2 linked regions of the Homo sapiens genome follow. The protein of the gene in region 2 purifies or fractionates together with the protein of the main gene of each other region. This does not show direct contact. Each region holds a gene or a part of one and is shown on either strand. Other genes may lie near its edges. The genes, in order: ARMC6 and MPC2.

Region 1 (3,826 bases), on a different chromosome or scaffold from region 2:
CACTGGTCCGTGGGCCAAAGGGAGCAGAGTGGTAGTGAGGCCGTTGTCACACAAGGCTGTCATCACAGGCCACGTCTGTGCAGTGAGGTGCCACATGCTGCCTGGTGGGCTTGGTGGGGGAGGGAGGGACCCCACAGCCTTCTCCCTTGGGGCTCCCATCCCTCCTGGCTCTGGCTGCATTCTTGCCCCTGCTGGCACCCCCACAGGGAGCCCCTACAGTGCTGGACGCTTTTGCTTGTCCCACTGGCCCCTGTCTAGTGTTCTATACCCCACTCTGTGCCTAGGAGGCTGACCTCTGACCTCTCAGGCTGTACCCTGGGTTTGTTCAATGGGGAAGTGAACTTGAGATGGGGGCAGGAGGAGGGGAGTGTGGGGTGTTCATTCCCAGCCCCCTGCCTCTGCCCCAGGGCCCAGCACCCATCATGTGGCCCCTGCCCAGGACTCCTGCTCCCTGCAGTCAGGGTCTCTGCCGGAGCTAGTTGTGCTAGGGGTGGTCTCCTAACCCCACCCACACCATTGCAAACAGCCCCTCATAACCACACTCATCTGCACCTGGTCTGAACATGCCACCTGTTTCCACAGGCTGCTTCTGCCTCTGTAAGCTCGAGGTAGGGTAGAGTAGGGCAGGGAGGCAGGGGCCCTGTTTCCCAGGCCAGGGTCAGGGAAAGTCTCTTCAAGGAAGTGATCAAATGAGACTCATGAGAAGGATCCAGCCCACAAATATCTGGGCGAGGTGGAAGCAGGTGAGAGGTGGGAGCAGGATAACCAGCCTGCCTCGGGCAGAAGCTGGAGGGGACAGGGCCCAATGGCACCTGGTTTCTATGCCAGGCATGTGGCACCCCCAGTGGGGCGGGGCAGCAGGGCTCTCCCACTGCTCTTGCATCTAAGAGCCAAGGATGGTAGGTGACAGTCACACCACCCTACCTTGCGATTCAAACTGCTCCACGGCCTCTTTCACTGCCTCCTCTGGCCCCATCGCAAACTCCTCGATGTTCTCGCGCACAGCTGCATCAAAGGTCTCCTGGGCAATGCGCTTGGAGACCATCTTCGCCTGTGTTGATGTTGGCGTGCAGCCGATAGATGCTCCTGAGCTGAGAGGTTAGGGCAAAGAGAGAGCTACCTCAAGGGTGAGCAGGCAATGGCAGGGCCTGGCCACCTTGAAAACGCCACTTAGGAAGCATCTACCAGCGACCAGAGCCCTACAACCACCCTGGAGAAATTCTTCCCACCTGTTATCACAGGAAAGGGTGATATCCCTACTTCCCTAGAACTTCTGCAAATACAGAAGAGGCCGGGTGTGATGGCTTAGCCTGTAATCCCGGCACTCTGAGAGGCCGAGGTGGGAGGATCACTTGAGCCTGGGAGGTCAAGGCTGCAGTGAGCCATGATCACACTACTACACTCCAGCCTGGGCCACAGAGTGAGACCCTGTCTTGGGAAAAAAAAACAAAGTGTAGGAGAGAACACAGAGTTTACTACATTTTATCTAAGAAAGGTGGTTCTTTAATATAATGATACTAGTAATGTTATTCTGAAACTATTACGGATGTAGCAAATAATAATGATTATCTTATTAGGAATCAGAATAAAAGAAAAAAGATTCTGGCTGGGCGCAGTGGGTCAATGCCTATAATCCCAACACTTTGGGAAGCTGAGGCAGGAGGATTGCTTGAGCCCAGGAGTTCAAGACCAGCCTGGACAACATGGCAAAAGTCTGTCTCTACCAAAATAAAAATAAAAATTAGCTGAGTGTGGTGGCACATGCCTGTAGTCCCAACTACTCAGGAGGCTGAGGTAGCAGGATCGCTTGAGCCTGGGAGGCCAAGATTGCGCCACTGCACTCCAACCTGGGCAACAGAGCAAGCCCCTGACTCAAAAAGAAAAAAAAAAGATTCTAACATCGTACTATCAACTAAAAACTCGGAACTCCCTATAATTAACAATATTGTATGGTATACTTGAAATTTGCTAAGAGGGTAGATTCTAAGTGTTCTCACCACAAAAAAGAAAAAGGTAACTGTTGATTGAGGTGAGTATTTCACAATCTGCATGCATATAAAATCGTCAAGTTGTATAATGTAAACATATGCAATATATTTGTATCATTTATGTACCATATATAGTATAAGATATACACTATATTAAATACAATTCGCTGGGTGCAGTGGCGCATGCCTGTAATCCCAACACTTTGGGAGGCCGAGGCAGGTGGATGACCTGAGGTCAGGAGTTTAAGACCAGCCTGGCCAGCATGGTGAAATCCCATCTCTGCTAAAAATACAAAAATTAACCGGGCATGGTGGCGGGCACCTGTGATCCCAGCCACTCGGGAGGCTGAGGCAGGAGAATCATTTGAACCCAGGAGGCAGAGGTTGCAGTGAGCCGAGATTGCACCACTGCACACCAGCCTGGGCAACAGAGCAAGATTCCGTCTCAAAAAAAAGTACATCCTATACCTCGATAAAGTTGAGAAAAAAAATCTCAGAACTCCTATATATGAAATGGGAATATCCATATAAACCCATCATGTGTTTTCTCTTAGGTAAACAAAGATCTAATTTTCTAGTCATAGCAACTAAAAATGCCTAGGAGAAATGACAGCACAGGAGCACTGAATACCTCTAACACCATGTATGGTTTCTACCATTTCCCACGAAAAGGAGCTGGGGCCAGGGCTAGGTGGCTCACTCCTGTAATCCCAGCACTTTGGGAGGCTGAGGCAGGAAGATGGCTTGAGGCCAGGAGTTCAACACTAGCCTGGACAACATGGGGAGGCCCTGTCTCTACATAAAATCTTTAAAAACAAGGAGCCAGGGCTTCTGGAGGAATGGCTGATTCCAAGTCCCAGCAGGTCATGGGGCAGGTAACGCTGGGGTCTTGTGAGACCAGGAAGCAAGGAAGCTTCCAAACCCTAAGGGATGCCTGGTAGCTACAGATGAGACAAGTGAGCATTAAAAAAAAATCCAGTACATATCAAAATCAAAATCTGGGCCAGGTGTGGTGGCTCACGTCTGTAATCCCAGCAATCAGGGAGACCGAGGTAGGAGAACCACTTGAGCACAGAGGCGGAGGTTGCAGTGAGCCGAGATCATGCCATTGCACTCCAGCCTGGCTGACAGTCAGACGATGTTGCAAAAAAAAAAAAAAGTCAAACTCTGTGCTTTCATAATACTAAAACAAATACAGCTCAGGCTTCTGAAAACTGGCCAAGAATCCAGCTCTTGGCAGGGAGTGGTGGCATGCTCTTGTACTCCCAGCTACTACTCAGGAGGCTGAGATGGGAGGATCACTTGAATCCAGGAGTTCAAGACCAGCCTGGCCAACGTAGCGAGACACTGTCTCTACAATAATTAGTAACAATTTTTTTAAAAAAAACCTAGCACTTAACCTGCCTCCCTTGTACAAATGAGTCCCAGGTTATAAAAAGAGGATGAGGAAAAGTTCTGCTTCCGATTCCAGCTGATCAGCTGTGACAGGAGAGAAACAGATAATGATCCCACAGGATCCAAAACCATCAGGTGTAAAACTGATGGGAGCCCAACAAGGGGTAGACAGGAACTCAGTCTACTGCTTGATCTCACATCATCAAGAGAAACCAGCAACACCTACCTCCTGAACAAGAACAAAATGCACCTGTGAAGTCATCGTGCCAAAATCTCAAACCCGAATCTGATCATGCATTCAGGGCACTTCCTGCTATGATGAAACGTTCTCTATCTGCACTGCCTAGTACAGAAGCCATTGGCCTCTGTGGCTATCACACAGCTGAAGTGTGGCAGTGTGGCTGAGGAACTGAGTGTGTAATTTTATTTCATTTTAATTTGTT
Region 2 (3,826 bases):
ATATATGAATCTTTTAAAAAAATTAGTGCCATCTCCAGCCTGGGCAACAGAGCGAGACCCCGTCTCAAAAAAAAAAAAAATTAGTGCCATCTAAGTAGCTTTTGCAACAGTTTTAAAAATATCTCTGGTAGGCTTACCTCCAAATACGAAAAAGCTGAGAGGCTCCTGCTGCCCCCACAAAGAAATTAACAGCAAACAGACTCCAATTTTTTGGAATAATTACAAGTGAGTATCTTGACCAAATAAACCCTGTTGAAACAAAATGTTACTTTAAAAAGAATACATACTGCTTCAATAACTTCAGTGAATACTTAATATTGAGTAAAGTAATTACAACAATAATGTAGGATGAGGGACAAAGAAATGCTATACTCTGAATTTTCAATGTTTCTGTAACTTAGTGTCACAGAAAATACTCAATTCTTACATGAAAGAGGAATCTTTAAAGTGACTATTAACTGTAATTTTCTTCCCACTTATAAAAATATGTTCATGGCAAAAACCTGAAAAGCAAAAGCCCATTCAGATACTTATTCTTTCTGTGACTCCTCCATCCATAACTTAATAACTTCCTAGACATAATACTGTTAATTCCTTTGTGTGTGGGTGTATTTCAAACACTAAGCCACTAAATAAACTGATATAAAAGAAAACAAAAATCATTTATGTTCTACAAGAAACACAGAAGATATTTATTTAATTTACCTGTAGCCATCAAAACAGCAGATTGAGCTGTGCTAAGTTTTTCTGCAGGTCTGGCCATATCAGCCAATCCAGCACACACCAACCCCTACACATTAACGCATAGAAAGAAAAAAAGTATCACAAATGTGGAGTAATAGTTTTAACTTTAAATCAAGCACAAGACATTTTTGAGATTTCCGTAAGTTAGCAGCTATAATTTTAGTGTCCATTCATTAAGAAAATGTAGATTACAACAAAAAAAAAGCACAATGAATTAAAAAACTGCTTTTTGAACTAATTTTATTTTGTTAGGTACACTAAGCAGTCTCACATATCTGAAAGTCAGTAGTACATATATAGATAAGATGTATATGTATGCATTACACGTACATATATATTTTGGGTTTTTTTTGGTCTACCTATTTCACATATGAATTTATATACTCTTTATATATGTCAGGAACCACTAACCACTAGCATGGAAGATACCTAAAAGCTGTTAAGGTCATTTGTATAGATTCTTCCTTTGATGTTTTCTGCCAATGTTATCATTTTTAAATTAAATTAAATTTTAGATTTGGGGTATATGTGCAGGTTTGTTACATGGGTATATTGTGTGATGCTGAGGTTTGGGCTTCTAATGAATTATTTTTTAAAAGTATAAATATCAGAAAAACTTATAATTTTAGTTTTTTGGTTAGATCATTTTTTTTTTTTTAGACAGTCTCACTCTGTCACCCAGGTTAGAGAGCAATGGTGCGATCTAGGCTCACTGCAACCTCCACCTCCCAGTTTCAAGCAATTCTCATGCCTCAGCCCCCAAGTAGCTGGAATTACAGGCGTGTGCCAATATGCCTGGCTAATTTTTGTATTTTTAATAGAGACGGGGTTTCACCATGTTGGCCAGGCTGGTCTCAAACTCCTGACCGCAGGTGATCCGCCCGCCTCAACCTCCCAAAGTGCTGGGATTACAGGTGTGAGCCACCATGCCCGGCCTTGGCTGTTACGCCATTTTTCTTTAACATCAGCATATACATGGCCATTTCTCTTCTGTGTTTTTAACACTGTCTCTATTGCACTCATGCGTTTTTGCTCCCACCAGATGAGCTGTATTTTTACCAAGTCACTATGTTTGTCCCCAATCTATTTATGCCAGTTTTACTTGTTAATGTAATTTACATGATTTAATAAATTGTTTTTTTTTAAAAAAACTAAGCTGGAAATTATATAGGATGCACTGTAGTGTAATTTATCCAGGATAGAAAATGTGGAGCTCAGAAATCCATACACAAATAAAAGATTTAGCTTTAAAAAAGACTGATTGTCAATGAATATATATTTATATCCTTTAGGTTAAAATAAAATATTTAAGGTACATAGGTTTTTGTTTTTAGGATTATCCACTTTGACCTTTATGATTAGTTATGTGGTTTCAACTAAAGTGGTTACAAAGGACTCTACTACAGTTATATGTTTGAAGGCATATGGTCTGAGAGTCTTCATGTTATAGAACATATGTGGCTTGCAGAAGCAACTGTTATGTGTCATGTATAGAATTCTACAGATTAATTATCAAATACTCTGGGATAGTAAAACACAGTAAGAGGTATATAAGGTAAGTATCTAATAGAAGAAGTCTCCCCACCAGAGAACAAAACACAGAAGTTTCTATTGCTATGCTGTCATCTGGAGACTATGTATGATTTCAACATGTACTTAAAATAGATGTTCTTAAAGAGACAGATAGTCAAGAAGGCATTTATGAGTATATAATGCTGTCAATATCTCACAACAGTAATGAACCAGTTCAAATAAACCCCAAAGCTATTGATAAAATCAATAAACTCCTAAACTGTGGTAAATTTGAGATCAAAGAGGCCCCTAAATTTATTGTGAATAGATGAAATCACTCAAACTCTTTTAATGATTGAATACTTCAGCAATCAATTCCACTATAAAGATATATTATTACTATGTAATTTTAAGTGTAGGTAGGGAGAGAAGAAGGAAATGGTAATGTAACTTCCATTAGTATAGGGGGTTTTAGGATCTTTTCTCAATATGTAGATATGAAAAAAAAAACCTGCTCCCTAGATCTCTGTAAAATACAGCTCCCGAATGACTTATATTCTAATCTTGTCACTTTATAGTTGAAGAGACAAAATGACAAAGAGACTAAACTTGCCCAAGGCCATAAGATTGAGTCATAGCCAATTCCAACTCTAACATTCTCAACCACTTGAATTTACAACTGAGTTTCTGAATTGTTCTAACCATTTTAAAAGTACATTTAAGAGAATTACAACAGCCCATCACTCAACAACAACAAAAAACACCTTGATTAAATTAAAAAACAGGCAAAGGACTTGAATAAATATTTCTCCAAAGAATATACACAACTGACCAATAAGTACAATAAGTATATGTTCAGCATGACTAATCATTAGGGAAGTGCAAATAAAAACAAAGATATCTAACACCCATTAGGTGCCTATCATAAAAACAAAAACAAAAATGCTCCCCCATCAAAAGTAACAAGTGTTGGTGAGGATGTGGAGAAATTAGAACACTTATGAATTGCTGGTAGAAATGTAAAATAATGTAGTTGCTGAGGAAAACAAAAAATATTAAGCAGAATTATCATATGATCTAGCAATTCAACTTCTGGGTGTATACTAAGAAGAATTAAAAGTATTGACTTAAACAGATTCTTGTACATCAATGTTCATGGTAGCATTATTCACAACAGCAAAAATGTGGAAGCAAACCAATTGTCCAATCAACATATAGAAGAATAAACAAAATGTGGTAAATACATACAATGGAATGCTATTCAGCATTAAAAAGAAAGGAAAGTGACACATGTGACAACGTTAATGTACCTTGTGGACATTATGCTAGGGGAAATAAGCCAACTACAAAAAGACAAATACATTTTGATTCCATTTACATGAGGTACTTAGAGTAGTGAAATTCATAGAGACAGAAGGTAGAATGGTGGTTGCCAGGGACTGGGAGAAGGAGAATGGGGAATTATGGGTACAGAGACTTGCTTTTACAAGATAAAAAGGGTTCTGGAGATTGGTTAACAATGATGTAAATGTACTTAACGCTACTGAACTGTACACTTTGAAAATGGTTC

Evidence for each region.
Region 1: the proteins of MPC2 (region 2) and ARMC6 purify together in Homo sapiens (co-immunoprecipitation; one large-scale study listed by IntAct). This does not show direct contact.

The regions. Positions count from the first base shown.
Region 1 is NC_000019.10:19,039,976-19,043,801, reverse strand, and holds part of ARMC6 (armadillo repeat-containing protein 6), read right to left. Parts: intron 1,117-3,826; exon of another isoform or gene 1,092-1,116; coding exon 925-1,091; intron 1-924.
Region 2 is NC_000001.11:167,919,842-167,923,667, forward strand, and holds part of MPC2 (mitochondrial pyruvate carrier 2), read right to left. Parts: intron 791-3,826; coding exon 706-790; intron 250-705; coding exon 138-249; intron 1-137. UniProt on the Homo sapiens protein: Mediates the uptake of pyruvate into mitochondria.